4 linked regions of the Homo sapiens genome follow. The protein of the gene in region 1 interacts with the protein of each later gene in a pairwise test. Each region holds a gene or a part of one and is shown in the gene's direction. Other genes may lie near its edges. The genes, in order: OTP, EOMES, SLC12A7 and BEX1.

Region 1 (9,143 bases):
CTCACTACCCCGACATCTTTATGCGTGAGGAGCTGGCACTGCGTATCGGGCTGACCGAGTCCCGAGTGCAGGTACGAGGGGCTTGGGATCTGGGACAGAAGGCAAGGACAGGGCGGGAGGATTTGGGCAAAGGGAGCAGGGTCTTCCCTTCCCCTGTCGAGATCCTGGGCTGCTTTCAGGCTGCCTGTGCGTTCCTGTATCGAGTTATCTCCTTCTCTACCCGGAAACTGGTCCCCATCGCCATCCCCCAATGGACACGCAAGGCCCGTCTCCGGCCAGTATAGCGACATCCCGGAAGAAGCTCCTCAAAATCGAAGCCCGGCGTTGTCGGGCTACAGGGTTCGCCTCCTCCGCCTGAGAAGGCAACCTCAGCGCCCCCCCGGGCGGCCCAGCCGAGCGCACACCTCAACTCCTGCTCGCATTATTGACAAATATTACCCCCTAATGAGTTTGTGTTAAGCGTTTGGATAAAAGGAGGAATGCAACAATTATACAGAAAACAAGAGAAAAGAGCAAATAAGGCGAATGAGCGCCTTTTAAAAAAGTGCTACACCCAGGTTTCACGGCGTGGCTTTATTACCTTAAGTATCACCCTCCCTCTGCACTCAGGCGAAATATTCCTAGCTTTGATGTTTGCAAGGGGTTTGAACTTTCGTAGTCTACCAGTGCGCTGGGGGCAGCTGACGAGATTCCCAAAGCCGGTGAGCCCCGTTTTGTTTTGGAGTCCTCTAAGGAAGCTACGGTGGGGGAGGGGAAATGAAGGCTTTCTGTTGTGGATATCATGTCTGAAGAAGGGGCATTCAGAACGGGAAAGGTTGACAGGCAGTAGAGGAAATCATTGCTGACCCCTTATTCTCCTCCAACCACTCTCCAAGCTGTAAATTATATATAACCTAGAAAATCACACCTATAATTATTCTGAAAATTGGTGAATAAAAGTATAAGCCTAGTGAATCCCAGATTTTTGTTTGTTTTTTTTTTTTGTTTTTTAAAAGAAAGAATGAAGACATATCAAATATTTTATGGACAGGTGCCTGGAGGTGAAATTCCAAGCGCCGGTACTCACTCTTGAGCTATCCAGGGTGCTGAAAAATCTTCCTTTGCCGTCTTGGACGGTGGTATTTTCTGTACGATATCCTGGGTGTCATCAACCTGGTCAATTTGTTAAACCAGTGCTACCTACTTTTATAAAATTAACTTTAAGATCTTAGTTACTTTACATTTGATCTAAGAAGTAAGCAATGAGAACGTCCGTAATCACAGCGTTGAATGTTTCTGTCTCCATTCGGCATTTTAAAGATAGTCTAAACTGAAAAGATAGCGCATGCTTCTGCTCTAATAGCAAATGAATATTATTGGGGATTTAAAATGGTCAAATTAATAAAGTAATGTTGATTAACATAATGATTAGCATTTTTATACAATATAAGTCTGGGTGGTTTTCCTAGTGAAAGGCCTAGACCATGGTCTTTTAAAACGACACACCAAAAGAGTACTAATTGTGTAACTGTAAACATGTGTTAGTAATGCTCTTCAAAATTTTTATTTTTCACCTTTTAAAAAATATCTGAAGTTGAGTTTAAACCTTTACATAAATATACAATTTCAATACTTCCATCAACACTGATGACAGTGCTTGCTTGTAGGTTCAATTTTGCAGGTTAGAAATTCATAAATTTTGGGGTTTTGTCCTTTAAGAGAAAGATTATCTATTAATTCTGTATTTAAAGGGTAAAATGCTGTGTCTTAACCTAGATATACTGGCAATTAGTTTAAATTAAAATAGAACTTAGAATCACAAATAAAATATAATTGAACAACTGATTTTATGAAAAAAGAAAACGAGGTCTATTAAACTTTATTAGGTCTTCCAAAGGTTAATGACAGTTATTCTTTTAACAGAAAAAGTTGTAAATGAAATAAAATATAAGCTATGTAACAGAAATAGTTATTTTCAAAAAGTACACAAAAGAATGCACAAGAAGAAAGAGACAAAGTACTCTAATTGTTCCAGCATAATGTTCAAGCAAAGATAATAGCTTGAGCCTGCTGATAGACACAATTTAATAGAATGGCAATTTCAATATTTTTAAAAATAATGTTCCATAGTTTAAAAAGTAATCAGATCAACATAACCTTCTTAATTAACTTTTCAAAATGATTAACATTATGTAATGTAATGCAAAAATAATTTATGGAAAATGTATTTACTTCACAATTCACTGTACCATTGCTCCTTGACCAAATTCAAATTAAATAGTAATTGGCTTATGTTCTTATATGATCAATACTTCATAGTTTTCTTTATAGTTAACAGACTGCCACACATTCTTTTCAGTATGTGGGCCACTGCGCTGATTAAAAATTATCTAAACATTTAATTCATTGCAATTGTATATTTTTAAAGATGCTTTTTGATTCTAGACTAAATTATCCAATATACTTATTTTTTATCTTTATTTGGTATATATCACACTTTTAAGTATTTATTAAAGCATCTCTACTCACATGGAGGCCAATTCCATGTCTGATATAGCTCCTCTTTTCTGGCCAGTGTAATAAAACCATTCCTTTTATAGCATGCCATTATTAGAAACCAATTTCAGAATTATTTATAACCTGGAATGGCTTATTAAGCAGCAATGTGAGAATCATGCAAATTATGTGATCAAATGCAATATAATAAGCATAATCATTAGTCTCTAGCATGGATTAATTAACTTTCAATATTTTATTTACATAAAAACCAAATCAGTAAAATAACTTCTGCACAGTCAGGCTTGCCTTTCAATATTTTATATGAACAAAAATAGTGTGCTGTAATTCCATTGACCGTGTCCCCCAGAATGGCCCTGTCACCTGCCACATCTTAATAGGGGGACAAACTGAGAGTATTTTCTAGTTTTCTAATGGAATGAGAAATTGCATTTTCTTCCTCTCCCAGCACTATTAAACTGTAATGAATTCGGCCCAGAGTTCACGGCTGGCTGATCGAAATGAACCTGAGATCTAGGCTTTAATACAGCTCCCCAGATTTCCTCCAAAATCTTCACATTAATCATTTGCTGGATTCCAATGAGATCTTCATAAAGCATTTGCTTCAAGGGGGGAAAAAGTAATATTCTCTCTTTCTCTCCCTCTTTTTTCTATTTCTCAGTCATTTATAGCTGGGGAATTAAACGGGCTATATATTTTAAAATACATTTACAGTATGTCTATATTACTGTAACAGCAGATATCATGAAAGTGGATTTTTAGATTCCAACCTCCATTAGATTCTCACTGTTGTATTAAGCATTTTCCAAGAAGAGCTGCATTTCAAACTGAGTACAAAGTTGGCCCGTGGCTGGGGTTAATATATTTCCTGGAGTTGTCATCTGTGCATTCTAAAAATCTCCCTTAGGTTTTGCCTGCATTTTAATCCGTCATGCTCTAGTTTTCAAGTGGAAACATTCACATTTAAAAAACATATGCATCGTAGCTTGGAACGGAGGTGCTCAGACCCCACGCAGATTTTTTTTCCCAATCCCAGTAAGCCATGAAACATAAAAAAATTTGTAGCCATCATTTGACTACTAACCCTCAAACATAATTGAGCACGATTTTCCGATTATTTCTATAATATTTAGTTCTTTAACAGCTGTTCTTTTCCGCCTGTGCCTGAGCAGATCCTAGATTCAGAAACCATTCTGGTAGTCACATTTTCTATTGAAATTCTACTGGGCAATCCTCCCCCTCTTTCTTTTTTCTGCTCCTTCCCTCACACTCCCTCTCCTCAAACAAACATTTCGGGATTCACTGGCACTTGCAGGTTGTTAGGAACCGGTCTTGATTTTATAAGACACCTTTCAAAACATAATCCCGGTGCGGCGTGTAAGGTGTGGGAACCGTTTAGTCACAGACACCGTCCCGTCTACCTCCCCCGAGTCCAGCCTTGGGTGGGTGCTGCACAGCGACTTTCGGCCTTAGGTCTTCTCGCTGTGCCTTCCTTTCCTCCTGAGAGATGCTCTCCGCCTAAGACCGCTAACAGCTCAATTGGGTCTCATTGATCCCACTCACCATCTAGAGCCCTGTTGCCTCATTAATCCGTTGTGCCACCAGCTCACGGGCTGCAACTGGGAAGAGACGAGACCTGTTTATCCATCGCCGACACTGGGATACGCAGCAATCTGCAAAATGGGGTAGAAACCACAGGAAGAAAGTGGTAGGCGACGGCGCAGGCACGGTAGAAAGGCGAGGGCCGGCCCCAAGCTGGGGGAGTATTCTAGACTGCAACACCGTTCACACTGGTAAGCGTAGAGTGCGTCTACGCTTGCCTGGGCATGAACACACCGCTGAACATTGCTGGCTCACCGAGACCGAGGGCAGGTATGTCCATACCCCTGATACTTTAGCTTGCAGAGTAAACACTAAATAGGTTAGATTAACGGATGCACAACGTTTTTTTCCACGGATATCGTGGTCAAATTGCGTTGGCCAAATTCTAAGAGGAAACTCAGTACCTGGGCTTGTCCTACATCATTTATATTTAGGCACAGTAAACGCCAGATGACCAGATTTTAAACTGCAAGTCTTCCAGGCAGGCTTGCTGGCAAATTATTATTATTATTATTGTCATTTAAAAAGATCACATTCAAATAGGGGGAGATGGGAGTTATCTTGGATTGGCAGCTTATGTGATATCTTTCAGGCAGAACTCTTCTTCTGTGATAGAGGGTTTGACATGCCTAGGCAAATTTGCCTGACAGGGTCTGTAACTCCCGGGCCACTGTTAAAAAAAAAAAAAATAGGAAGGCTGTTTTCATTTGGAGTGTATTTTATCAAACTCATTTCCCTGAAAAAGGACGTTTGGGTTTGTCTGAGCAAAATTAAATTTGATTCATATATCTCGTAGTGAAATGTGACCTCCTTTAATTCATATTGGTCCGAAAATTTGCTTTTAGTTTATAAATGAAATGGGGGCGACTTGAGGGAACTGGAGGCCTTGTTACTTGGGACCCTTGGTAAGTTCCTGAAAGGAATAGACTTTGGCTTGGCGCGGTGGCTCACGTCTGTAATCCTAGCACTTTGGGAGGCCGAGGCGGGTGGATCACGAGGTCAGGAGTTCAAGACCAGCCTGGCCAACATGGTGAAACCCCGTCTCCACTAAAAGTACAAAAATTATCTGGGCATGGTGGCGCGTTTCTGTAATCCTAGCTACTCGGGAGGCTGAGGCAGGAGAATTGCTTCAGCCGGGACCCGGGAAGCGGAGGTTGCAGTGAGCCGAGATCGTGCCACTGCACTCCAACCTGGGCTACAGAGCAAGACTCCGTCTCAAAAAAAAAAAAAAAAAAAAAAAAAGAATAGGGTTGAAGGCTCTTGGGGCAGCAGGTTCCAGCCACTCGTACAGCCCAGACAAAGGTGTCCATAGAGTGGTTTGGGAATGAGGCACGGAGAGTTGTGGCAGTAGCACGAAGCAATATGGGAGGAATCGGAAGTCATGGTGGTGACCCAAACAACACTGTAGCTCAGTGGCGTTCACTTTCCCACGCAGATCACTGTATTAACCTCTCCGCTCTGTCAACCGTAGCGTTAGGGGTTTTCCTTTGTCTTTCGATTTTGAAACTATGTCATCCACAGCCTGTCATCAATTTCCAAATTTCCAGCGTTTCTGAAAATTCTATAGCACATCAGTGTTATAAGGCATGCTATTAAGCTACATGGGTACACGTTTATCTTCATTTGTACACCTGTGGGTCGAACTTTGACACATGCCTGACTGCAGACCTGTGAATCTGTGCAGTGCACAGAATGTGCAGGGGCGTGGTGAAGACTGCACACATTTGGTGTGTTTGCACAGTGCGTAAACTCTTCGGGGCACGAGCTCTTAGGAGCGCAGGACTCCGCGCTTGGTGGGTGCAGGGGGCGCCAGTTGCCAGGAGTTGGTGGGGAGCCACAGTCTCCGGCTGGGTATGGGGGCTTGTCGGGCCTACGGCACTTGTTCCTCCCAGGGCAGAGCGGCTGTATCCGAGGCGGGTTTCTGGGGCTCAAGCCCCAACTCCCCAGCCGCCGGGCCGGCTAATAGCTCCCTGTCTGTCTCCCGCCCCGCCCGCTCCAGGTCTGGTTCCAGAACCGACGCGCCAAGTGGAAGAAGCGCAAAAAGACGACCAACGTGTTCCGTGCGCCCGGCACACTGCTGCCCACGCCAGGCCTGCCTCAGTTCCCGTCGGCTGCCGCCGCCGCTGCCGCCGCCATGGGCGACAGCCTGTGCTCTTTCCACGCCAACGACACCCGCTGGGCGGCGGCCGCCATGCCTGGCGTGTCACAGCTGCCTCTGCCGCCGGCGCTGGGCAGGCAGCAGGCCATGGCGCAGTCGCTGTCCCAGTGCAGCCTGGCGGCCGGTCCGCCGCCCAACTCCATGGGCCTGTCCAACAGCCTGGCGGGTTCCAACGGCGCGGGGCTGCAGTCGCACCTCTACCAGCCCGCCTTCCCCGGCATGGTGCCCGCCTCCCTCCCCGGCCCCAGCAACGTCTCCGGTTCGCCCCAGCTCTGCAGCTCCCCGGACAGCAGCGACGTGTGGCGGGGCACCAGCATCGCCTCCCTCCGCCGCAAGGCGCTAGAGCACACAGTCTCTATGAGCTTCACTTAATGCAGCCGCGCCCCGGCCCGCTCCGCCCCCAGCACCGCCCCGGGGGCCGCCCCGAGGCCCTTCCGGCGCGCACCCGGACCCCGGCGCCCTGCCCCGTCCCGCCCCGGCCTTCGCCCCGTCTCGTTTCGTCCTCGCCTCTCTCCTCCACTCGCTCGGGCTCACCCCAAGCCCCAGCCCGCGAGGCCTCCCCTCCGCCTGATTTCGATCGCCCGCGGTCCCCCGTCTCCCGGCCGCCCCTCTTCCCTTCCCACCCAGCTGCGCCCTCGGCTCGGTCTCCAGCGCCTCAGCCCACCCTTCCCGCCACCCTGGCCTCCCTGCTTGCGCTGGCCGTGCTCGCGCCCTCCTCCTGGCCTTCTGACGGGCGGCGTTCCCACCCACACCTTCGACGCGACGCCTACGACCCCCCTCGCCCGCCGCCTCCCCTCCGGTCCCCTCTTTCCCCACACTTCGCGACCCTCCTCCCGCGCCCGGCAAAAAGTATCCTTCCCGCCATTTTACGTACCAGGGAGTCGACTCAGGATCTGAAATCAGACACCAATGGACTGGTTTGTGGGCAGAAACACACACACTCGCACTCTCGCTCACGCTCAGACGCTACACACGCGCGCGCACAGACACGGTGCACCTAGGTCACACACGGACGTGTTCAAGGGACAGCACAATGTTAGGGATTTTTGTCTTAAAGGAGGACAAGCATTGCTACCAACCGCCTCATCTGAGGGCCCAACTGATATGATTTGATTTATCCTTGTACTCTCCAAGCTCCTGTCTTTCTTTCCTCTCCCACCACGCTACCCTTGCCCAGTCCACCCAGTCACATCCGTGCAGCCCTCTCTTGGCTTGCAAGATAACGCTTTTATTTTTATTTTATCTTATTTTCATTTTCTTAAGCACAACTGTGTGAGAGTGTAGAAGGGAAGGCTTCTCAGGAGGAACGTGACAGTGGATTGGGTGGCTGGAGTAGACTAAAGCAGTCATGTGACGAGGAAGAGGTGATCTGACCCATTTTGATAAGTCTTTATAAGGAAGAATAAAATAAACGTGTAAGCAAAATTTTCTTTTGTAAAAGCAAAAGCCACATCTCTTTTCTGGATCCTTCAGGACTGGGGTTTGTTTGCTTCCTTTTCTGTTTCTGTCTTCTCGCTGCTCTGTGCCCTTGGTTGTTTTGTGGTGGTCCTGTCGTCCCTCGTGCCCCTCGGCCACCTGCTGGCAGCCGATGGGGGCACTCGGACATCTACAACCCTGCAACTTTGTACAGAGAAACACAATCAGCTCTTTCTGCATGTGCTGGTCAAATCCAAACCCAGAGAACAGAAGCGCTTTCTAAGAATGAACAAATATGTGAAATAGGATGTTTTGTGTAGATAAAGCATTCTTGTTACATACTGGTCAATTTGTGATATGTTTTAACTTAATGTCTGTGTTTATTTATGGAATTCGGTTTTCTTAATAAATGTTTGAGCTAATATAAAGCATATTATTTGACTTTTCCGGACAAGTTTATATCAAGTTAAATGTAAATGGATAAAATAAAATCATTTTCAGTATGTGATATAGAGAATGATGGGTTTTGGTGTGACCTTGAACGGCGGGAGGGGTCTCGTGGGGGGAGGGGAGGGGCCGGTCTTGGGAATGGTTATATTCGCGCCAGTTGGAACGCGTGGGCCCTTCGCCCTGCAGTGGGCTTGGGTTCGGTTTCTGGGCTGCAAGGTGAGGTCTCCGCGACGGGGCGGCATGCTGGGGCGCCGCGAGCGCCTCACGCAAGCTCTGAGCCTCCCGAGGTTTCCGGGCCAACCCAGGTTTCCCAGGTGGGACTCCGAGCGTCGCTGTCGGCACGAAACGCAGGGCGCGAGAGTTCCTCAGATGAACGGTGTCCCTGGGGCAGTGGCGCGGAGGGCGCCCCTCGCGGGCTGCGTGCGCGTGATGGGGAGGCCGTGGGTGGGAGGGGACCACAATTCGCACCCTCGGCCTTCAGAGCCTGGAGTTCTGCTCTCCGGCGCCGCCCCAGCCGTGTCTGGCCCCAGGTACGCGGTGGAAGCTAGGCCGCGGCTCTTGCCTCCTCCGGGGCCTAGGCCTCTTTGGGGCCTTCCCTAAGGCCACGGCGCCCCTTCATGTCCCCAGACCCGGGATCCGCTTCAGATACCCGGGACCTCCCAAGTAAGGGACAAACGCGCTTCTCCAGAAGAGGCGTGTCCGGGACGACCAGCACCTACCAGGGCTCCCCCAACCCCGGGGCTGCTCTGGTTTCCTGTCAGGGTCCCTGCTGGCTGCGTACTAACCTCGACTTCAGGCACGTGCTCAGGGGACTGCCCCAAAGGAGTAGGAAAAAAATGCCGTTTCTTCGGTCGGCCGAGGGGAAGGTTTGCGGTGTGTTTTAAACTTGGAGGCAAATCGATATCACAGGCTTCCTTGGGAAGGCTAACCGAAATCAATCTTGTGGTTTGAAATTTAATGGTCATTATAGGCATTGAGAGGGCACCCCTTTTCCCACGGGAAGACTTCTCATTTGGTTGCC
Region 2 (9,439 bases), on another chromosome or scaffold:
ACCTTGAGATAGAAAAGGTCTTAAAAATGATATATTTTAAAGTCTGAAAAAGATGAAAATATCATGTCTTTTAATTTAGAAAGATCTTTGTTTTCTTTTTCTCTTAGGAAAAAACTTTAGTCCTTGTGGTTATAAAGCCTAAGACCTGACACTGTCCCTGACCTCTGTTAGCTGTTCCAGCACACAGGTTTAGTAAATCTTTTCATTTAATTGATAAGCACCTACTGTGCTCCAGGCTTTTCAGGGTAGAAAAATGAGCAAGATAGATGGAGCCCCGTATAACTTTCGTATATAGTGTAGCAACAATTAGCCAAACGTTCCCAAAATACACTTTCTTGAGAGTGTTTTACTTTCTTTGCCTAATGTGGCTTTTCTTGTTATTATATATTCCCATATACATGATGAGGAAGAAGAAAAAGATGATGATAATGATGATGATAAAACAGCAGCTAAATACAGAAATTCATTAGCAGTTTAAAAATTACTTTCATAAAAAAGGTAAGTCATGATTTTGTGCTGTTGCCAAAGACTCTTGATTCAATCTTTAGGAGAAGATAATTTATCTTTTGTAATAAGCAACTATTAGTGTGTTTATTTATTAACTTCCATTTCAGGATTCCTTCACCTCCTCATATTTTAACAGTGAACCACAAAGTGCATTAGCAATGTAGATATATAGACTTAAAGCAAAGATAATAGTTTAAATTGGTCATTTTTGTTGAAAAAAATACCATGGGTTTAATATAACACTTCACGTCACACATGTGTAGCTCTGGTTTGGGGTTTTTTTGTTTTGTTTTGTTTTTGTTTTTTTGTAAAGCAAGTGGTCAGTGTATTTCAGTGTCATGGTGAAATATAAATTCTAAAAATTCTTATAAAAGTGAAACTTTTGGTGGGAGTATCTTGCTCTTGTCAGCAGAATCAACACTGCTTGTCTTTGCCAAGATGTTTTATCTTACGGGACATTTGCTTAAAAAAAAATGAAACATGAACAACCTAACGGTGATTAAAGCTCCCTCCCTCTTTGGAAAGCACAGCAGAGGTGGCAGATCTGGCCATCAGAGAACAAAGGGCCAAAGAGTGAACCTGAGTTGGTGAAATAAAATGTAACATCAACAAAGAAAGGGCCATAGATAAATAGTAAAAGGACCAACTCACCACAAAAAACCCATTGACGCTTTCCCAGAGTCCAGGCGAAGCGCTGGTGACCGGTTAATGTTGGAATGTTTTCCTAGGGTTAAAAGGAGAACCGGCAGCAAGTCTGCTCAGAATTTACAAAGTGTTTGAATAACATGGACAGTGTTTTGATAACACGTTTTTAGTGGGGGTGAAAATAATAGTATTTATTGGGACATTTATATGGGCCCCCTTGGTTGTGGGGGGTGGGTGGCACATGGGGAGAGGTAAACCTTATATCATTGCACTCATCTATAACTCACCTCTGTAACATACCCATATGTGTGTAAATGTATTTCTTATATAATAATCCTGTTCCAACCAAATGCTTCTCAGTTTTGCTTTTAAAAGATCAATGCATGGCTAGTGGTTACCTTTAAGGGGGAGAAAGAGATAAAGAGGTCATCTGGTCAAGTTGGCAATAACTTTGACCAAGACAGTGGTATGAAGTTGGTATTATTCCTCAGAACAATAGAGCGTGAGATCTTTAATGTGTTCACACACAGACTTGGCCTTGGCTTCCTGGTAGCCTTTAAAGATTCCTGCTTGCTCCATCTCAGGCTGAAAGGTACAAGATTTGAGTTAATCCAGCAGGTATTTGGGTCTGGGGTTTCAAGGGGTTTCCATGTTTCCTCCCCAGTGTTGATGTTTTTGTTCAATGTATTCCAATACACTGTCAGTTGAGCCACATAAAACCAGGCACCTTTCAATAAATGTCTCATTTGGATTTCATGAAGCTTGGGGTGTAATTGAAATCAAACAGCAAACAGGCTGGAAGGCTCTGTTATTTGCCCACCCAGTCTAAGGAGGGTGCTGCCTGACATGTTCACTTAAGCCACTGCTTTGGCTTTCTTTTCTATTCCTACTTCTGGAAAGGAGTGCCTGGATTTTAAAGTGTGGCTGGGACACGTGAAAATATTTTTTATGTCTCTTCCCCTGGCTATAATATTGAGCCAGCAAAAGGAAAGCCCATTTCAAGCAGGAAATCACAGACTTGCTCATCTATAACTCTCCAGGCATTCTAGACTAGTATATTCTAAATGTAATAATAATAATAATAATGTGATTAGCTAATTAACACAGAGGAACCATTAAATGAGATTTTTTATCTTCAGCCAGAAAAAAAAAGATCTGTAGCTGAAACAGTGCTTTTCATTATTTTAAAGAGAATTTGTAACATATACTTACAAATGTAATGTAATACAATATGTAATATAATATTATGTACATATTTTCCATGTTCCAAAAATCCTGGGTCCTAGAGTAGTTTTATAGAAACTGAATTTTTATTCTCTTTGAATTTGTCTTTGCTCCTCCATATGTAAAATGTGTTGAAGTTTGGGAAAAATAATAGATTTACTGGGGAAGTGGGTAGATATCAACCAAAATTTCCTGTCCCCAAGAATCAATACAAATTCTAATTATATACATCGTGTGTATATTTAATAATTAGGTGGTGCTCATACTGAACTCATGCGCTTTCAAAAGCTTGCTCTGGGGCTGGAATAAAATCAACGCTTTCTGATGTGGCTCGGGGGACAGCTGGCCCGCGTTATTCGCGCCAGAGTGGGTCGGAACGATGCCTGTTGCCTGCGATGGCACTTTGCCACGCGAAGCGCTTCCCTGGCTGCGTCAAAAGCATTTTGAAGGGACGCCGAGGCCCGCTTCTTGCTTTGTTAAAGCGCAAAACTGTCATGTACCTTTGGCCACCCTAGCTCCAAATAACGTGAGATTAGGTCTCACATTAGGGAGATTTCTCATCCCTACTTTTGCCTTAGATATCTTGCAACTCAGGTAAAGGATAATGTGGAGGATCCTACGAATAGTAATCAGGACCCGCTAGCCCAGGGATAGATACGTCGTCCAAGCCGCCCAAGCTGCACGGCCTCTTTCTTTCCTTGAGCTCGCGTACCCCTCACGGGATCTTCACGTTGACAGTCATGAGGTATTCACAGAGCTATACTACTTGAACAATCAATGTTCTAGACTTCCTTGGGTCAAAATAACACTAAAGCAGGGGAGGAAGGCATGGACAATGTAGTGATCAAAACAGCCGTGCCAAACACTAACTATACTGATGACACAAAACGCAGGAAGCGCAGGGCAGAACGCGCTCAGTACCAGCTTTCTGGCGATCTGCTCCTGGCCACTCTGTCCCAGGACCTACAAGGCCACCGCCCCAGCCCACTAGTCTCAACTTGCCCCCTCCCCTGTGGCTGTGCCTTGACCCTGAAAATCTTCGCGCACTCCTGGGTTTCACCACCACACACACGCGAGCGCGCGAGCGCGCGAACACACACATCAAAAAAGAAAAAAAAAACCGTGATAAATGCCCTGGAGAGTCTAAGTGCATTAAGGACCTCGTTCTCGGAGACCCCAGACATGCCGATGTTGGTGCTGCTGTGGTTGGAAAACTGGGTTGGAAAGCTTCGCACTGTTCTACACTTGCGTGTGCGCACTCAGCAATCCTTTGGCCATCTCATCTGTTGTGGGCGAAGAGTTTCCCGTGTGATCGCGTTCGGTTGGGGAAGCAGAGTCCCGACATCTCAGCCGGAAAATGCGCTCCCGGAGCGATTACTGGCGGCGTCTGTAATTGCTTATTAACAGCGAATATTCAGGCTTCTCCTTATCCGCAACGAAACGTGCCCCCCGCTTCCGTAATAATGAAACGATAAAATATGACGGCCCCGCTCTTGAATCTATCTGAGGAAACGCAGCGAAGAAACAAGCAGCTGGAGTTTAATTCAATATCAAACTGATTATTTCACTAATTATTCTACCTTCTGTATTTGCCGCAGAGCAGAGGCGCAGGGAATCCTAACTGTGGGGCTGTTAGGGAAGCTTTGTTTCTTGGTGTCAGGCCTAACTGAAGATGGTGGTGAAGGGACGGAATCCGGGATCAGGAAAACTGAGCAGAAAGGATTTTAAATTGTGGGGAATAAAAGTGACTGTCTCCCCGAAAGCAGTTGTGTTGGCGTGAGTATGAAGTTGGTGTTAGCTCGCTTAGTTTCACTCTTGTCCTGTCCCCAGTACCCTGTCCAAGCTTCTGATTTAGAAGCTGAGAGCTTAGGTCCTCCAGGATGGCAATGTGCTCTGGCCGTCCCCGGAATCCCAAAAGCTTAGCGCGAGTTTCCTCTCTACAAACCTTTCCCACTGGGTAAAAGGATGGGAACAAACAAAAAGTGGTTCTGTGCGTTGAAGGCCAGGGAGTTTGCCTTCGACAAGAGGAAGGTGTGCTTTGAAGTTACAGCTTCCGACGAGGAAAGAGACTTCCTTGGGCCTGTCTCCAACTTGCCCCAGTTTCCCCAGCCTCCGGGACGGGCGCTTCCCTGCAAGCTATCAGCTTGAAGAGTCTTTCTCTCTCTGGCCTCTAAAATCTGCTCCAGCCATCTCATTCCTCCAGCGGAGGGCTGAGATGACTAATGCGCCAAGGGTGGACACCGCTATGGAGACCCCAAACTTTGTCCCCCTAAATTCCGGCGAAATTACAGACACCAGGATTGATTATCACAGCGGGACGCAGTCTCAAAAAAAAAAAAAAAAAAAAAAAAAAAAAAAGGAAAAGAAAGTCACAGGCGACTTGATCCAATTAGTAAATGCCTAATTGAATTAGTGTCACCTCCACCAGCCAATAGGAGGGTCTCCGGGCTGTGAGGCCGGGAAGCCCCTCCCTGGCCGCAAATATATAAAGCAGCTAGTGACAGCCCATAAGTTTCCAAGTGGTCAACTTGACCGATGCTTTGGCAATTGAAAAAGGGCAGAAAGGCGCGGGCTAGTGGGTGGATGGGGACAAAGATCTAAGTCACCTTCTTCCAGCGTGTGAGCCTGGGAGGAGGGTGGGGGTCCTGAGGAGCAAGAGGTACGAGGAAGGAAAAGGAGAGGGCTTCTGGGTTAGTTTCCACCTCCTGCTTTCCAACTCACGGCGCTTTCCTTCCGGAAAGGACGCTGGATTCAGGGCGCGCCAGTACGCGCAGTAGCGGCCCGCGAGTCGGCAGGTGGGTAGCCCCGGCGCGGGAGGAAGGGGAAGTTACCTTCCCCTCGGAAGAGGGCGCTGGCTCCCCCATCCTGCCTTTATAATAAGGCCACCGGAGGAGAGGAAGCAGCCAGCTGCCGTCTGCGCTTTGCAAAGCATGCAGTTAGGGGAGCAGCTCTTGGTGAGCTCAGTGAACCTGCCTGGCGCGCACTTCTACCCGCTGGAGAGTGCGCGAGGCGGCAGCGGCGGGAGCGCTGGCCACCTCCCCAGCGCGGCCCCCTCTCCTCAGAAGTTGGACTTAGACAAAGCGTCCAAGAAGTTTTCCGGCAGTCTCTCCTGCGAGGCGGTGAGCGGGGAGCCCGCAGCCGCCAGCGCAGGGGCCCCCGCGGCCATGCTTAGTGACACCGACGCCGGGGACGCATTTGCCAGCGCTGCGGCAGTGGCCAAGCCGGGGCCCCCGGACGGCCGCAAGGGCTCCCCCTGCGGGGAGGAGGAGCTGCCCTCCGCCGCTGCAGCCGCCGCCGCCGCCGCCGCCGCGGCTGCGGCCACTGCGCGCTACTCCATGGACAGCCTGAGCTCCGAGCGGTACTACCTCCAGTCCCCCGGTCCTCAGGGGTCGGAGCTGGCTGCGCCCTGCTCACTCTTCCCGTACCAGGCGGCGGCTGGGGCGCCCCACGGACCTGTGTACCCGGCTCCTAACGGGGCGCGCTACCCCTACGGCTCCATGCTGCCCCCCGGCGGCTTCCCCGCGGCTGTGTGCCCACCCGGGAGGGCGCAGTTCGGCCCAGGAGCCGGTGCGGGCAGTGGCGCGGGCGGTAGCAGCGGCGGGGGCGGCGGCCCGGGCACCTATCAGTACAGCCAGGGGGCTCCGCTCTACGGGCCGTACCCTGGAGCCGCAGCGGCGGGATCTTGCGGAGGACTGGGGGGCCTGGGGGTTCCAGGTTCTGGCTTCCGTGCCCACGTCTACCTGTGCAACCGGCCTCTGTGGCTCAAATTCCACCGCCACCAAACTGAGATGATCATTACGAAACAGGGCAGGTGAGCGCAGCGTGGAGGGGCCCCTGGGTTCGGGGATAAAGGGTGACGTGTGGTCCTGGGGAAGGTCCGGGATGAGGGAGCTGAACCCAGTTGTTCCGCGCGGTGCTTAGAGTGTTTCACCGCGCGCAATAAATCTCCGTAGACACCGCATCTCCAATGCGGTGTCCCTCTGTGTCAGTGCCCCGGCGGCTCTTGCAGGGTGCCAATGTTACGGCTGTACACCGCTTTTCCCTCCCATCATCCTCACCTGAACAGACCTGGAGGAGGCGGAAATGGAAATTAGGGCATGTCCACAAGCTGGATTCGTTAGATCCTCCTGCTCGGCGGTATGCTTGTGCATGCCTGCATGCCGGCAAGGAGCCACGGATAGGGAAGGCTCAAGAGCTGGCCACCTGAGCGCAGTAGATGGGCTCCCGCAGTTTTAGGCGCCAGGGTCTCCACGGGGCGTCTCCGGGAGGTGGGCATGAAGGCTAGAGCGCCGGCCTCGGAAGCTCGGTCGGAGTAGGTGGTTAGATCTGCCCTGGAGCCAGACCTGGCTCGGGTTCGGTGCGCGAGAAAGTTCTGATATACATCCAACTGCTAACACTGGCTACTTCTGGGGAAAGGGAGGGGTGGGTGCTGAGAGAGGGGCACTCAAAGGGGACTTTTAGCCTAAAGTTTTAATATATATTTTTAACAAGAATAACCTAATATTGTTCTCTGGTACTTTTCAAAATGGTGCATTTAAAAATTAGTAGTTTTTAACATTCTAGGAGAAAAATTTTAAGAGCGTCTGAAAGGGCCGAGAATATGAGCCTTCGGAAGCACGCGCGAATTTGGAATATACCGATGTTGGGGCAAGCTTTTTTTTTTTTTTTTTTTTTTTTTTTTTTTTTTTTTTTTGAAAAGACGGAAAGGTTCCAAGAGTTGCCAACTCAAAAATATTTTACATAGTTTCAGACCACTTGATCTACCAGCATTCTGTTCACTGCAAACTTTTAAATGTGTTCCGACCCTATCCCAGGTGTCTGGGGAACCCGCTGGGGCCTGGGCCTGTTCTAGGACATCCCAATTAAAATCGATTTTTCTGATTCTATTCCCTTGCACAGGCGCATGTTTCCTTTCTTGAGCTTCAACATAAACGGACTCAATCCCACTGCCCACTACAATGTGTTCGTAGAGGTGGTGCTGGCGGACCCCAACCACTGGCGCTTCCAGGGGGGCAAATGGGTGACCTGTGGCAAAGCCGACAATAACATGCAGGGTGAGCAGAGAAGAGGCTCGGGCCGGGGAGGAACGGGCGGGAAGAAATCGTAACCCTCGACTCACACAACTCACATTTAAATGTAGCACTTTTTTTTTCCCCTTCCATTCTGAGGCCTAGAGGTGTTAGTATGAGTGTCTTTGAGTTGCTTGTTTGACGGAGAGGAGAGTTTGCTAAGTCAGATTTCTTGTCTGCCAATATGTAGATATTTAGAACCTTTAACTAAGACATCACCCCACCCCCCAATCCCTACGTTTAACAAATCAGTAGTCATAAGCTCTCCAGGTGGGAAGGGCTCCTGGGATTCTAATGTTCACTTGAGAAAGCCCAGCCAAAGTTTAGTTCACCCATAAATATCCAACTGTCTTCCATCGGATGTTGCCCTTACAGCTTTAGAAGGCCCCAAATTGACCTTCAAGAGTCATCTCTTGTTAGCTCCGTTTCTAAATTCTGAAATGCCATTCAGGGGAGTCCCTAGTGCAAGGAAGGTTGGAAGCACAGGGGCCTGGGAGGGATATGGATGTAGTCCTGCTGGTCTCCACTGGCCTCTTTAAGCAACTTTTACTGGGAGACCAACTGTAAGTCTAGCTCTTATATCTTGCTCATAGCTAAGAGACATCCCTCCGCTTTCTCCATTTGTAAACAGCCCTATATGCTTGGGTTTTGTGTTTTGTTTCATTTTCTCTTAGGCAACAAAATGTATGTTCACCCAGAGTCTCCTAATACTGGTTCCCACTGGATGAGACAGGAGATTTCATTCGGGAAATTAAAACTCACCAATAACAAAGGCGCAAATAACAACAACACCCAGGTAGAGTGACAGAGCAGGAGGGGATATCTTCTGGCTTTGACTATAAGGCTTTTTTCTAATAAGAGTCCCTACTCTTTTCACTGTATTTATAATATTTGCATTTGTGACCTGTTTGCTCGCCTATTTCTAACCATTTTTGTTCTTTTGACCTTTCTCATCTTCACTTTCTTATTGGATTTCGATAACAGTGAGTTGACTATTAAGAACAGAAATAGCGAAGTATTTTGGGAATTTAGGAAACCAAGAGGAAAGCATATCTATCACAACCACATACCCAGCTATGATTTAAATTTCAAAAAAAAAGGGGGGGGGCAATAATGAGACCTTTAAACTTGCAATAAACAAAGCTGTTAGTGAGGAGCATTTAGAAGTCCAATACCAAAATACATAATTTGTCAAAATCTAATTTTGTTGAACCACTAAGAGGCTTTTTAGATTTAGCAATTTTTTTCTGTACTCTTTCCAGATGATAGTCTTACAATCCTTACACAAATACCAACCCCGACTGCATATTGTTGAAGTTACAGAGGATGGCGTGGAGGACTTGAATGAGCCCTCAAAGACCCAGACTTTTACCTTCTCAGAAACGCAATTCATTGCAGTGACTGCCTACCAAAACACCGATGTGAGTGTCCCAGACATCTCAAGAATCTCTAAAGCTAAGGTCCAGCATGATAAATCACTCAATGACTGTTTTTCTCCCCTATCTAGATTACTCAACTAAAGATTGATCATAACCCCTTTGCAAAAGGCTTCAGAGACAACTATGATTCGTAAGTGCAGCTTTTATCCACACTTGCCTGATCATCTCTGAGCAGGACATACATCAACAGGCACTTTGCTGATAATGTATTTTAGGAAGAGCTTTTACCTTTGGGATTTTTACATATTTTTCTTTTTCCAAAATTTTTTCCTTTACTAATCTTGCTTTAGATTTTTCTCAGAAAGGTTGTGTTAATTTCTGAAGAAATGTTAAGGACTTAAAAATGAAGAGGTTTTTTTAGCATTTGAGTGAAGATTTGAAATTTTAAGAATCTGCATTTATATATACCTTTCTTTTCATTTGATCCATTTTTTTATCCTCCCAAGAGCAGATATTATTACTCTCCCCCACCCCCACTTTTTTTTTTAACATAAGAAAAAACTGAAACTAAGAGGATGTAATTTCACAACACGAAATAGCAAGGCCCTGCTCTTT
Region 3 (5,323 bases), about 77 Mb from region 1:
TGCACTTGTGTATTAGTGTGACTATGCCTGTGTGTGTACACATCAGTGTGTCTGCATGTATGTGTGTGTGCGTATACACATTAGTGTGCGTGTCTGTGCCTGTGTCTGCACTGGTCCTCCTTGCTGTGGCGGCCGGCATACTCCACCAGTAGCCAAGGGCCAGGTCTCCGCCTCACCCCAGCACTCACTGGCTGTGGACACGCTGCCCACTCCGACCCCCCTGTGCTCCTGGCCTGCTTTCACTTCCTGGAGCTGCTCTTTGTCCCCAAACACACTGGTAATTGTGGTCTATCCAGAAGTCGAATTCAAAGTTCCAAGTTCCTGGCACGAAAGCCCCTTGACTGTGCTGTGGACAGAGACCCCATCTGTAATTAGACCAGGCTGGAGAGAAGATAGAAGGTCTCTCCCTGTGTTCCTCCTGGAAATTGGTGGTTATGATCACGTTTATGTGGCTTAAGCGTCAAGCGGATCAAAGGGCGTGAGCCTGGATAGCGTCCGTGGGGCCTCTCCATGACCCTGCATGGGCGGCCTCTGTCTGTCCGCCGCCGCCCCTCTGCGTCCAGGGCGCTGGTGACCTCCCCCAGGGGGCCACAGTCACGACCGCACGGCTGCAGCTGGCCTGAGACCCGCTCCGACTTTCAAGTCCACACACGGGCCGGGTTTTTCCAACACAGAAACGCAAGTGCTCCCCTCCGCCCAGCGTTTCCCCAGGTGGCCTCCTGGAACGCCAGTTCTGCTGCAGTTTAGGGGCCTGCCTAGGAGGGGACCGTGGGGTAGAGGAGGGAGATAAGCTCTGTCCCGCAAGGGCCTGAGCACCTCACAGCATGATTCTGCAGTGTCCCCAAACCTACTTGGTTGGGGAGCCTCCTGTGGGGCTGTGGCCGGGCCCAGGCCGCCAGGGACGCTTTGAGACATGGACCGGCCACAGCAGCTTCAGAGAGCAGACAGGGAGGGTCGTGGAGCAGAGCTGCGTTGTGAGGACGGAAGGCGGGGGCTGGACGGCCACACGGTGGAAGTGCTTGTCCTTTAGCCCTTGGCCAGACAGGGGCAGGGTGGGCCGTAGGAGGGGACCCAGTAGTGGCCACTGAGGGCCTGTGCCTCCAGCTGAGTCCTCGGCATACCCTGTCCTTGTCAGGCCTGGGAGCTTCAGCAGCAACGGCTGCACAGGCCGGTGTGGGGGACTCTGGGCCTTTCCTTCCTGAGCTTCCGGCCCCTTGGACCCAGTTGTATCAGGACCCTCGGAGAGGAGGCCATGTGTGCCCAGCCTGACGGGTCTGTGTTTGGCAGTGTCTGACGTGGGGTTTAGGGGCGATGATGTAGATGTCAAGAGAAGCGTGTCAGCCTTGAAGGCGTCAGGCACATGGGCCACCCAGACGGCTTCCACTGTTCTGCCTGCTTTGCAGATGTAGATGTAGTTAGGAAAGCGCTTGCGGTTTGTGTTGTGTGACTGTAGCCCTTAGAAGCTTGGCAGCCTTAGTGGGCTGAGTTCTAGGTCCCTGGAGGCCAAAGCATCCCGCTGCTGAACGCCCGCCCTGGCTGCAGTCAGCGCCTTTCGCTCGGAGCCGCCACTTCTGCATCCTTCAGGGTCAGAGAATCCGCCTGATCCTGACTCACACAGCCCTTTCCAACACGTGTGAATGCAGCTCATCAGGGCTCAGCTCAGCCTCGTGTCCGGAGCGTGGGGTGCACCCGCCGCCCGCTGACCGTGCCCACCTCCCCTGCAGGGACCAGTCCAACGTCAGGCGGATGCACACGGCTGTGAAGCTCAATGGCGTCGTCCTCAACAAGTCCCAGGATGCGCAGCTGGTCCTGCTCAACATGCCAGGTCCTCCCAAAAACCGGCAGGGAGACGAGAACTGTATCCTTTCTTGCAGTGTGCCTGCTGAGCGTGCGGGCACCCCCTGGTGGCTTCTCGCTAAGACCTGGGTTTGTGGGTGCTGGGAGTGAGGCTGGCTTCCCGCCTCTCCTTCAGCCCCAGGCTCTGGGAGCTACGACCGGGATGCAGTGGGGCTCTGAGCCCAGTGGTGACCGGGCCAGAGTTGGGGCCAGCCCTGGCATTGGTGTGGGGGAGGGAGGGCCCGCCTACAGTACCAGCCCCACTGTCCCCAGGTGCTCAGGGCTGCCCTGGGGCTGGGAGGCTCCCTGTCATGCATCCCCACAGCAGCTGTGCATTCTGGGACCTCCGCTGGGGCTCAGCCCCACCCTGCGCCGACAACGGTGGGAGGTGAGGAGCCCAGCTCTCGGCTTTAAGGCCACAATTGGTCGCAGCTTTGGGAATTTGTGCTTTGGAAGGAGAACTCCGCAGTGCATCTGGGCGTATTGGCACAGACAGGGTGACGCCTGGCACATCCCTGCCAGGTTGGCACCAAGAACTGGGGCCAGTGAGGGCATGTCCTCCATGCGTCCTGATCGGAATCCGTGGCCCAGGTCCCCTGTAGGCTGGTGAGGACCCAGTCCCGTGGCTGGGGTTCCCTGTCGGGTGGGGTCAGCACCGTGGGCTGTGTCGCTGTCTCTGCTCGTCCTCCCTGTGGCCACGGTGCTCCCTCTCTTTCCCGAGCACTGGCCCCTCTCTCCCCTGCCCTGCTCCTCCCCGCCTGGGGGGTCTCTCTAATCCCCACCTCTCTTTTCACCTTGGCTCTGGGTTTCTCAAACCAAATCTTAGCTAACCAGGAGAGGATAAACCTCACTCCTATCACGATTTCAGCTACACACGCTCAGGTAAGATCAGCTGTGGCCTTAACTCTGTTGACCACAGACATGGAGTTTCTTGAAGTCCTGACCGAGGGGCTGAACAGAGTCCTCCTGGTCAGGGGTGGCGGCCGGGAGGTGATCACCATCTACTCCTAATGCCCAACAGCATCACGGCACTCTGGGACAGGCACGGAGGACGGCGTGGGCAGCCTGGGCCTGGGCTTGGCCCAGGGAAACAGACGGCAGACACACCTGTCCCCCAGTGATGCCGCCCAAGCTGCCCATGGGGCTTCCTACGGAAGTTTCTAGGCCCGTCACCTAGGGCTCTCCTGTTCAGCCTTAACAGGCTCAGCAAATCAGGGCGTGGCTGGACGATTTCCTTGCATCTGAGGGCAGACGCTGCTACCGGAGTGACCTGGACGTGGCCAGATCTTCTCGCAGGTCACAAGAAGCCAGTGAGCCCTTGCCTTGGTTTCTGGAAGTTCTTTTCCTTGGCTGGATTTACCCAGTGGTTAGGTTGCATTTCTACCCCATCCAGAACATTCTTGGAAGAGCACCCGGAGCTGAAGCTGTCCCTGATGATGAAGGTGAAACGTCAGCCCTGGCCATGGCTCCGCTCAGGGCCCCGGTCACCTCCGAGTCACTCTGTTCCTTGACTGTCTTTGTGTTTCTGTACCTCAAGGCACTGAAGCTGGAGGACTCTGTCCATGCCCGTGTCACCCTCGTGTGGGAGCCTCTGGGCTCGGCAGGTCCACATTTCATGAGCTGAGGCGTGGGCCAGGGCCATCTGGAAAGGGAACTCGGCTTTTCCAGAACGTGGTGGATCATCTGTCGGGTGTGTGGTGAACACGTTCAGTTCATCAGGGCCTACGCTCCGGGAAGGGGCCCCCAGCTGTGGCTCTGCCATGCCGGGCTGTGTTTGCAGCTGTCCGAGTCTCCATCCACCTTTAGAAAACCAGCCACTTCTTTTCATAAGCACTGACAGGGCCCAGCCCACAGCCACAGGTGCGATCAGTGCCTCACGCAGGCAAATGCACTGAAACCCAGGGGCACACGCGCGCAGAGTGAACAGTGAGTTCCCCCGACAGCCCACGACAGCCAGGACTGCCCTCCCCACCCCACCCCACCCCAGGAGCACGGCACACAGTTCAGCCTCTGAGCTGGCTCACACGTGCCATCCCCACCCCGGTGCTCCAGGGAAGGAGGACACGGACCCGACGTGGGAGGTCCTCAGGCAGCAGTGGCGCCTGGTGTCAGGTCTGTCTGGCTGAGTCCCGGGCGTCCCCTGCCATGGCCTGTGCCTTGCATGGAGGCGGCGGTGGCACTGAAGAGATAGCTTTCAAGGGCCCAACACTTTGCACTTCGGCTGGCTGTGAGTTTCTGCTTTGTAGGTTGTGGTCACATTTGCAGGCTGCGGGCAGTGGCACCGACTTGGGCCTCCCTTTCTATGTGGCATATTTATTTATTTAAACACCCCAGGGAGTTACGTGGTAACAAGGTTGTCCATAAAGAGGTTGCTTCTATATACTAGAGGCCCCAGATGGCCAGGCCTTGGGCTACGTCTGGCTTGCATGGTCTCCCAAGGGAATCAGCCCCATCAACAAAGTTCAAATCGGGGCAGAGGCTGCACTTGTGCCCCCAGATGTTTCTGAGGAGCCAGACTAGGGCTGGCATTGCTGTAGAGTGACGGCTGCTGCCCAGAGCGTGTCCCAGACATCACAGCGGGGCTCAGCAGTTCCCACAGCCTCTGCCTGCCTTGGCTAAGCATGAGTTAAGCAGCAAAACGCTCCTCCATGTCTGGATGGGGCCGGCAGGTCCTGTGTCCCCTGCACCTGGAGGAGAGCAGGCTAGAGGCACAGCGGCCACATGGTGCTGGCTCTGAACGTTGGTTGGTGGCTGGAAAACAGCCCTGCTTCTGAGGGCCGCTCAGTTCTGCACACGAAACCACCTCCTGAGGGCTCAGCTCTGCCCCCGCCCTGGGCTGCAGCCTCTGCACGCAAGCACCAGGCATCCTTTGTGTTGTCAACTCCGTGTAACCAGTAACTACAGCCATTTACAATTGACTCCGTTTCCTTTTGTAGGTTTCCCTGTCTGTCTGTGTTAGTAGAAAAATAAAATCCTATGAAATCTGAGTACGTTGAAGAATCTCTTGAGTCTCATTCAGCATGAAAGACAGCTGGAGAAAATGTACTGGCCGCCCCTTTTCTAGCAGGAGCGTCAGGGCTGACCAGCCACAGCCAACTCAGGTGGCTGAAGAGTGACCATATGAATTGGACGAGGGCTTCCAAATCATGTCATCGGCTTGGAAATGACCTTACCCCAAACTTCCTAGTGCTGTGTGTTGAAGTGACCCAATCTCTGTATTTCTGAGACAGTCTCTGTTGCCTAGGCTGGAATGCAGTGGCGTCACCTCAGCTCACTGCAACCTCCGCCTCCCAGGTTCAAGCTATTTTCCTGCCTCAGCCTCCCGAATAGCTGGGATCACAGGCGTGTACCACCACGCCCAGCTAATTTTTGTATTTTAGTAGAGATGGGGTTTCACCATGTTGGCCAGGCTGGTCTCGAACTGACCTCAAGTGATCTGCCTGCCTCAGCCTCCTAAAGTGCTGGGATTACAGGTATGAGCCACCAT
Region 4 (8,367 bases), on another chromosome or scaffold:
AGACTTGGTTTCACCATCTTGGTCATTCTGGTCTCAAACTCCTGACCTCGTGATCTGCCCGCCTCAGCCTCCCGAAGTGCTGGGATTACAGGTGTAAGCCACTGTGCCCGGCCCAGGCTCTACTTCTAATTCTAGTTCTCTTGCTATTTCCACCATATCCGCAGTGACTTCCTCTACTGAAATCTTGAAACCTTCAAAGTAATCCATGATAATTGGAATCAACTTCTTCCAAACTCCTGTTAATGTTGATATTTTGATCTCCTCCCATGATTCAGAAATGTTCTTAATAGCATTTAGAATGATGAATCCCTTCCAGAAGATTGTCAATTTACTTTGCCTTAATCCATCAGAGGAATCACTATCTATGGCAGCTATTGTCTTATGAAATGTATTTCTTAAATAATAAACCTTGAAAGTCGAAATTACTTCTTGATCCGTGGGCTGAAAAATGGATGCTGTATTTGCAGGCACGAAAACAACGTTGATCACTTCGCACATCTTCATCAGAGCTCTTCAGTAGCTAGGTACATTGTCAATAAGCAGTAATATTTTGAAAGGAATCTTTTTTACTGAGCAATGGTTCTCAGTAGTTAATTTAAAATATTCAATAAACCATGCTGTAAACATATATGCTGTCATCCAGGCTTGGTTGGTTGTTCCATTTCTAGAGCACAAGTAGAGTAGATTTAGCAAAATTCTTTAGGACCCTAGGATATTCAGAATCTTCAATGAGCATTGGCTTCAACTTAAGGTCACCAGCTGCATAAGCCCCTAACAAAGGAGAGTGAGTCTGTTCTTTAAAGCTTTGAAGTCATGCATTGACTTCTCACTAGCTATGAAAGTATTAGATAGCACTAGCTATGAAAGTATTAGATAGCATCTTCTTCCAGTGGAAGGTTGTTTCATCTACACTGAACATTTGTCATTTAGCGTAGCCACCTTCACCAATTATCTTTGCTAAATCTTCTGGGTAACTTGCTGTAGCTTCTATATCAGCACTTGCTGTTTTACCTTGTGCTGTTACATTATGGAGATAATGTCTTCTCTCAAACTTCGTGAACCAGCCTCTGCTAGATTCAAACTTTTCTTCTGCACCTTCTTCACCTCTCTCAACCTTCACACAACTGAAGAGAGTTAACGCCTTGCTCTGCATTAGGCTTTGGCTTAAGGGAGTGTTGTGGCTGGTTTGATCTATTATTCAGACCACTAAAACTTTCTCCATATTAGCAATAAGGATGTTTTGCCTTTTTTTTGCCCAGGCTAGAGTGCACTGGCACTGTCCCGGCTCACTGCAACCTCCACCTCCCGGGTTCAAGCAATTCTCCTGCCTCAGCCTCCCGAGTAGCTAGGATTATAGGCACACACCACCACGCCTGGCTAATGTTTGTATTTTTAGTAGAGGCGGGGTTTCACCATGTTGGCAAGGCTAGTCTCAAACTCCTGACCTTGTGATCTGCCTACGTCGGCCTCCCAAAGTGCTGGAATTACAGGCGTGAGCCACCACACCTGTCCCTATTTTGGCTTTTGACATGCCTTCCTCACTACACTTAATAATTTCTAGCTTTTATTTTGGCTTTCGACATGCCTTCCTCACTACACTTAATAATTTCTCGCTTTTATTTTATTTATTTATTTTTTTGAGACGGAGTCTCATTCTGTCACCTGGGCTGGGGTACAGTGGCACAATCTCAGCTCACTGCAACCTCCACCTCCTGGGTTCAAGTGATTCTACTGCCTCAGCCTCCTGAGTAGCTAGGACTACAGGCACTCGCCACTACTCCCGGCTAATTTTTCTATTTTTTTATTAGGAACAGGGTTTTGCCATGTTGCCCAGGCTGGTCTCAAACTCCTGACCTCAAGTGATCTGCCCCGCTTGGCCTCCCAAAGTGTTGGGATTACAGGTGTGAGCCACCACGCCCGGCCAATGGAATTGTTTTGAGAGTCCAAAAGTAAAACTATGTGGCTAATCTCAAATGAATTTTGACAAGGGTTCCAAGACAATTCAGTGGAGAAATATAGTCTTTTCAACAAATGGTGCTTGGCCAACTGCATAGCCACATATAAAAGAATGAAGTTACACTCTTACCTCCCGCCTTATAAAAAACTAATTCAAACTGGGTCAAAGACCTAAATGGAAGAGCTAGAAGTATAAAACTCTTGGAGGAAAATATAGGGATAAATATTTGTGACCTTGGATTACAAAGGATTCTTAGATTCAAATGACTCTTGAATTCAAAAGATTCTTAGATATGACACCAATACCAGGAGCAGCAAAGAAAAAGGTAATCTAGACTTCATCAAAATTAAAAATTATTGTGTTTCCTTTTTTTGTTCTTTTGAGACAGAGTCTCGCTCTGTGGCTCAGGCTGGAGTGCAGTGGCACAATCTCGGCTCACTGCAACCTCCACCTCCCAAGTTCAAGCGATTCTCCTGCCTCAGCCTCCAGAGTAGCTGGGACTACAGGCAGGTGCTGCCACGCCTGGTTAATTTTTTGTATTTTTAGTAGAGATGGGGTTTCACCATGCTGGCCAGGCTGGTCTCAAACTCCTGACTTCAAGTGATTCGCCTGCCTTGGCCTCCCAAATTGCTGGAATTACAGGCATGAGCCACCGTGCCTGGCCAAACACCATTGTGTTTCAAAAGGCACCATTATGAAACTGATTAAAAAACCCACAGAATGGGCTAAAATATCTGCAGATCATATATGTAGTGAGGGATTTCTGTCTAGAATATATAAAAACTCTTGCAACTCAATAATAAAAAGAAAAATAACTCAAATAAAAAGTGCACAAAGATCTGAATAGACATTGATCCAAGGAGGATATACAAATGACCTATAAGCACATGAAAAGATGCACCACATTATTAGTCATCAAGGATATGCAAATCAAAACCACCATGATATACCACTTCACCCCCACTAAAATGGTTGGAATCAAAATTTCAGATAATAACAAATGTTGACAAGAATGTGGAGAAATCAAAACCGTCATATGCTACTGGTAGGAATGTAAAATATTCAGCCACTTTGGAACATAGTTTGGCAATTCCTCAAATGAGTAATCATATTGGAATCATAAAGCTTGAAAACATCATGCTAAATAAAAAATCCAATTTCCAAAGAATACATATTATACAATTTCATTCATATGAAATGTCAAAATAGGGAAATCTATAGACAGAAAACGTATTAGTAGTTGCTTTGGTATGAAGAGGATGGGGGAATAGGAGAGTGATAGCAAAAGAATAGGAGGTCGCTTTTTGAGGTGACGAAAATATCCTGAAGTTGACTGTGGTGATGGTTGCATGTATCTATGAATATGCTAAAAACCATTGAATTTTACACTTTAAATGGGCAATCTTATGGATTGCAAATTGTATCTCCATAAAGTTGTTTTTAAAAGATATAAATTGAGGCCAGGTGCGGTAGCTCACGCCTGTAATCCCAGCACTCAAGAGGCCGAGGTTGGCGGATCACCTAAAGTCAGGAGTTTGAGACAAGCGGGGCTAATATGGCTGAAATCCCGTCTCTACTAAAAATAAAAATAAAAATTAGCTGGGCATGGTGGTGTGCATCTGTAGTCCCAGCTACTCTGGAGGCTGAGGAAGGAATATCCCTTGAACCTGGGAGGCAGAGGTTGTAGTGAACCAAGATCACGCCACTGCACTCCAGCCTGGCTGACACAGTGAGTCTCCATCTAAAAAAAAAATATATATATACACACACACACACACACACACACACACACACACACACACACACACATATATAAATTGAGACTTAACCAGATTTGGTTATTATTTGAATATGAGGGACAATGTAGAGTGATTCAAGGATAATAGCCACATTTCTGGGTTGGTCAAGGGGTGAGTACTAAGGTAGAAAACAAAGGAAAATAAACATGTCTAAGGTGAGAAGAAGTGATGAGAGAGAGAGAGACCGAGAGAGAGAGGGAGAGAGACAGAGGAAGAAAAGAAGAAAAAGAAGAAGAAGAAGAAGAAGAGAGAAGAGAGAAGAAGGAAGAAGGAAGAAAGAAGAAGAAGAAAAAGAAGAAATAGTAGTATTAAGGGCTTCCACAGGCTTCTGAGTTGAGAAAGCCAAGTGTAGTAAGAATGGTCAGTGGAGAGTGTTCCCCAGGCCCTAGCATAAATGAAGAGGTATCAGAGTGGGTATGGACTGGCAGATAGTGACCCTGCAGCAAGACTAAGCTCTTCTGGGTGACCTGGAGGTGAGACAGTCAGGGTGAGGGTCTCGGTATGCTGCACTACAAAAGCCAGGTGAGAGATAGCAAAAATGTCCCAAAGAGACTTTTCCCCGGGGTGGGTGAAAAAGAGAAGAGAGCAGGCAGGTTTGAGAACTGCTCCCCACTCCTCCCACCTCCTCAATTACTTCTAGGCTTTTCTTGGAATCTCTCACCACAGAGCTGTAGAAAAGCCCTATTCTGGTTTCCAGAATGGGAAGAGACCTCCCAACTATGCTGAGAAGTGAGTCATTAGGTGGGAATTTGGGGAAGAAATAGAAGGAAGGAGCCAAAGTGATATATTAAGGTCACCACCTTGGTCACCTGTCCATCTATATTTTTGGAGTAAGCAACAGAATTAGGAGTCTGAACATAGGAATTAAGAAGCTCTCGAATATAACAGTGGAAGACCAGCACCTTCCCAACCTCTTGTCAGGGCAGGGATACTCTATCTCTGCGTCACTCAACCTGCCTTGGCCTCACAGCTCTTCCTTTTGCTTAAGTCTTCAAACCATCAACAGTGATAGCCACTAATTTTAGCAGGTGGCATTAGTTGTCAGCAAATGTTTTTTCATATTTAATGAATGTTTATTATAATAGAATAAAATAGAAATGTTTATTAATAAAACTTGAAATTTGTCCCAGAAGGATAAAAACGTAGATTATTTACATAAAATGGCCAAGATCTGACAACAGAACTGTTTCCTGAAGATTTACTTCACAGATTATTTTGAAAACACCAACTGTGTTCAGGAAAATTTTCTCTCCTTTTTTTCATAAAATTTTCAAACAAGTGAGAATGCTCTAAAAATGATGGTGTGGAGCCTAGAGAAAATGTTTTCTGTGTGCTATAGATGAACATAAACTATATATATATATTACTTTCCCAGGTTGAAGTGTTTCTTTCAAAAATAAAATTTGATTATTTTCAATTTTTTGAGGGATGCTGATTTTTAAAAAGGAAATAAAGAGAAATTATTAGGAAGCATATACACAGCCAGTGAGAAGAGGAAAGAAGAAAAGGCCAAGGCCAGAGGAAGGGGGTTTGGGGTGGGGGAAAGGAAGGGTACAGACCCTCCCAAATAACCGAAGATGGGTAAACTCCAACCGCAAAGCGATGATGCCACTTGTGGGCCCTCAGATTGGAGAGGACGGAGATGAGTGACGGGGCTGTGCGCACTGGGGCACCGCGCACAGACGGGAGGAGGGGGGTGTCTGTGTGTTCCAAAGGGGGGAGTACCAGTTAACTGGCCGCCGGCCCGTGGGGGTTGGTGAGAAGGAGGGTGAGCTTGGCGGTGACGCACGGCCCTCACGTGACCGGGAGCTGCAGAGCTACGCAGCCTTCGGTGCAGTCGTCACTCGTGTCTCGCTACCAGCTCCCCGCTGCCCTGCGCTCGGCGGGCTGGCATCCGGCCCGGGGGAAAGCGGACCAGGTAAGGGCCCCGGGGCCCGCGCGCCCTGGCTAGGCCAGCAGAGGCTCACCGACCCCCCCGACGAGCGCAGAACAGCGCAGGGGATCCCCGCCAGCTTTCTCCACACCCCAACATTCTTGGGAACATAGTGGTCCCCTGGGGTGGGGAAGCAGTGGCGGCTGGGGCTCCAGGGGCAGCAGAGCAACCAAGAGCGATGGAAAACCATTCCCGAGTCCTTGCAGGAAAACGGTGAACACCACGGGGGGCGAGGCGGCCGAGGGTGGGAGCGGGGGGCGGGAGACGCGGGGCGCTGGCAGTGAGGAGGGCCCTAGGCGGAGAAGGAGCTAGCGTTCCGCTGCAGCAGCCCCCCCTCCCCACACCCCAGCCCTTCTGCAGGTCTGCGGGGCCAAGTGTCCCGGCGGCGCACCTCGTGGCGAGAATCGGGAGAAGGAGGAGACTACAAGGATAGGCCCAGGTCAGTGCGAGGGACGGTGGTGGGGGCGGGTGCAGAGTCCAGTCTGAGGTCCCCTCCCAACTCCCCCATCTCCCGTCCTCCATTTTGGTGCCTGCCGAGATCTAGGGATGGATCTGTAGGGAAAATGGTGGGTTTGGGGGCAGGTAGGGGAAGACACGAGAGGTGGGGGGGGGGGCGGGCTCGAATGGGGGCCCCCTAGTGGGCGCACGAAACCTCTCTGGTGGGAAACGTGAAATTAAACAAAACAAAACATGTTGATAGCCATGACGCGGAATCCTGAAAAATGAGTAGCCGTGCCTCTGTCCTCGGTACTGAAGCGTTCACCAGCTGTTCAGCCCCTTCTCTCTCCTTTTGTCTCCTAGGAGTAATGGAGTCCAAAGAGAAACGAGCAGTAAACAGTCTCAGCATGGAAAATGCCAACCAAGAAAATGAAGAAAAGGAGCAAGTTGCTAATAAAGGGGAGCCCTTGGCCCTCCCTTTGGATGCTGGTGAATACTGTGTGCCTAGAGGAAATCGTAGGCGGTTCCGCGTTAGGCAGCCCATCCTGCAGTATAGATGGGATATGATGCATAGGCTTGGAGAACCACAGGCAAGGATGAGAGAAGAGAATATGGAAAGGATTGGGGAGGAGGTGAGACAGCTGATGGAAAAGCTGAGGGAAAAGCAGTTGAGTCATAGTCTGCGGGCAGTCAGCACTGACCCCCCTCACCATGACCATCATGATGAGTTTTGCCTTATGCCCTGAATCCTGATGGTTTCCCTAAAGTTATTACGGAAACAGACCCCTGCTTTCGAATTTACATGTTCATGATGTGCCCTTGTTGTAAACCTTTACCTGTCACTTGTTTACGTGGGTCTCCTATTACCAGCTTCTAATTGAATATTGTGTTTTTGAACCAGTCTGTAAGATTTTTGTTAGCAGAAGAATTTTACCTATTGCATGGAAAGATGCTCATTATAGTGAAGTTAATAAAGCACCTTTAAAAAGCAATCTCTATATTCTTTTTTTGTTAAAAATTTATATTGATTGTACTTAATACATGAAAAGAAAAGTACTGAAATTAAATATACCAAAGGATTAATATAGGGACTCATTCTATGAGATGGGTTAATGTATTTTTTATATTTTCTGTAATTTAAGAAAAATTGGAAACATTTTTAAATAACCTTTGAAGGCAGTAGAGTCACTTAATAAATACTTGCTGATCAGCACTACTCACAAAAGCAAAGACATGGAATCAACATAAATGTCCATCAGTGAGAGACTGGATAAAGTAAATATACATATACATCATGGAATATTATGCAGCCATAAAAATAAAGAAATCATGTCTGTTGTGGGAATATGGATAGAGCTGGAGGCTATTATCCTTAGCAAACTAATGCAGGAACAGAAAACCAAATACTGCATATTCTCATTTATAAGTGGGAGCTAAATGAAAACTCATGAACACAAAAAAGGGAACAACACACACTGGGATCTGTAGGGGTGGAGAGTGGGAGGGGGAAGAGGAACCTAAAAGATAACTATTGGGTGCTGGGCTTAATACCTGGGTAATGAAATAATCTGTGCAACAACCACCCCCCCACCTGCCCCCAGCCCATGACACAAGTTCACCTATGTAACAAACCTTCACATGTACCCTGGAACCTAAAAGTTTTCTTAAAAAAAGAAAAAAAAAATACTTGCTAATCAAATTTGGATCTCTTAGCCAGGTAAATAAACTCAGGAATTTGTATAAGTTGGGGGTGGCATTTCCTTCACATGACTGGAATGAGGTCATTTGTGTGAGACCTGTGTTTACCTGTTTTTTCTCCCATCCACACCTATTATGCAAGACTCTCATCCTCAGATTTTCCCTTCAGATGTTTAGCAGAGTGCTCAAAGGTAGGTCTCACTAGTCCAGCATAGTTCCTATTCTCAGGAATAAAATGTCTGTTGGTCATGCTGTGGTTTCTTCATGACGAGGCAGGCACTTAACCGAAGTAAAATTAATAATGACTGAGTCAGGAGCTCTGAGTTTTTGTCTCGGTTCAGTTTCTAAACAAGTAAATAACTTTGGATGTGTAACTTAGATTACTTGCCATTCCTAAAGGAACACTGGGTTCATTTAGTAATGTCACAGTGTTTCTAAAACTATGCTAATCTGCCACCTGTGTGAGAATCACCAGGGGATTTCTTGAAAATGTGGATTCATACAAAGTTCTTGGGTCCCAACATAGATCCCCTGAATGGGGC

Evidence for each region.
Region 2: the proteins of OTP (region 1) and EOMES interact in binary tests that used the Homo sapiens proteins (3 or more experiments, as listed by UniProt).
Region 3: the proteins of OTP (region 1) and SLC12A7 interact in binary tests that used the Homo sapiens proteins (3 or more experiments, as listed by UniProt).
Region 4: the proteins of OTP (region 1) and BEX1 interact in binary tests that used the Homo sapiens proteins (3 or more experiments, as listed by UniProt).

The regions. Positions count from the first base shown.
Region 1 is NC_000005.10:77,627,749-77,636,891, reverse strand, and holds the end of OTP (homeobox protein orthopedia), read left to right. Parts: coding exon 1-71; intron 72-2,431; exon of another isoform or gene 2,432-4,169; intron 4,170-6,097; coding exon 6,098-6,628; 3' UTR 6,629-8,180; downstream 8,181-9,143. UniProt on the Homo sapiens protein: Probably involved in the differentiation of hypothalamic neuroendocrine cells.
Region 2 is NC_000003.12:27,718,162-27,727,600, reverse strand, and holds the start of EOMES (eomesodermin homolog), read left to right. Parts: upstream 1-5,277; 5' UTR 5,278-5,306; coding exon 5,307-6,187; intron 6,188-7,275; coding exon 7,276-7,430; intron 7,431-8,119; coding exon 8,120-8,241; intron 8,242-8,707; coding exon 8,708-8,866; intron 8,867-8,952; coding exon 8,953-9,014; intron 9,015-9,439. UniProt on the Homo sapiens protein: Functions as a transcriptional activator playing a crucial role during development. Functions in trophoblast differentiation and later in gastrulation, regulating both mesoderm delamination and endoderm specification.
Region 3 is NC_000005.10:1,049,884-1,055,206, reverse strand, and holds the end of SLC12A7 (solute carrier family 12 member 7), read left to right. Parts: intron 1-1,724; coding exon 1,725-1,858; intron 1,859-2,755; coding exon 2,756-2,847; 3' UTR 2,848-4,823; downstream 4,824-5,323. UniProt on the Homo sapiens protein: Mediates electroneutral potassium-chloride cotransport when activated by cell swelling. May mediate K(+) uptake into Deiters' cells in the cochlea and contribute to K(+) recycling in the inner ear.
Region 4 is NC_000023.11:103,061,403-103,069,769, reverse strand, and holds BEX1 (protein BEX1), read left to right. Parts: upstream 1-5,598; 5' UTR 5,599-5,674; intron 5,675-6,038; 5' UTR 6,039-6,128; intron 6,129-6,490; 5' UTR 6,491-6,495; coding exon 6,496-6,873; 3' UTR 6,874-7,119; downstream 7,120-8,367.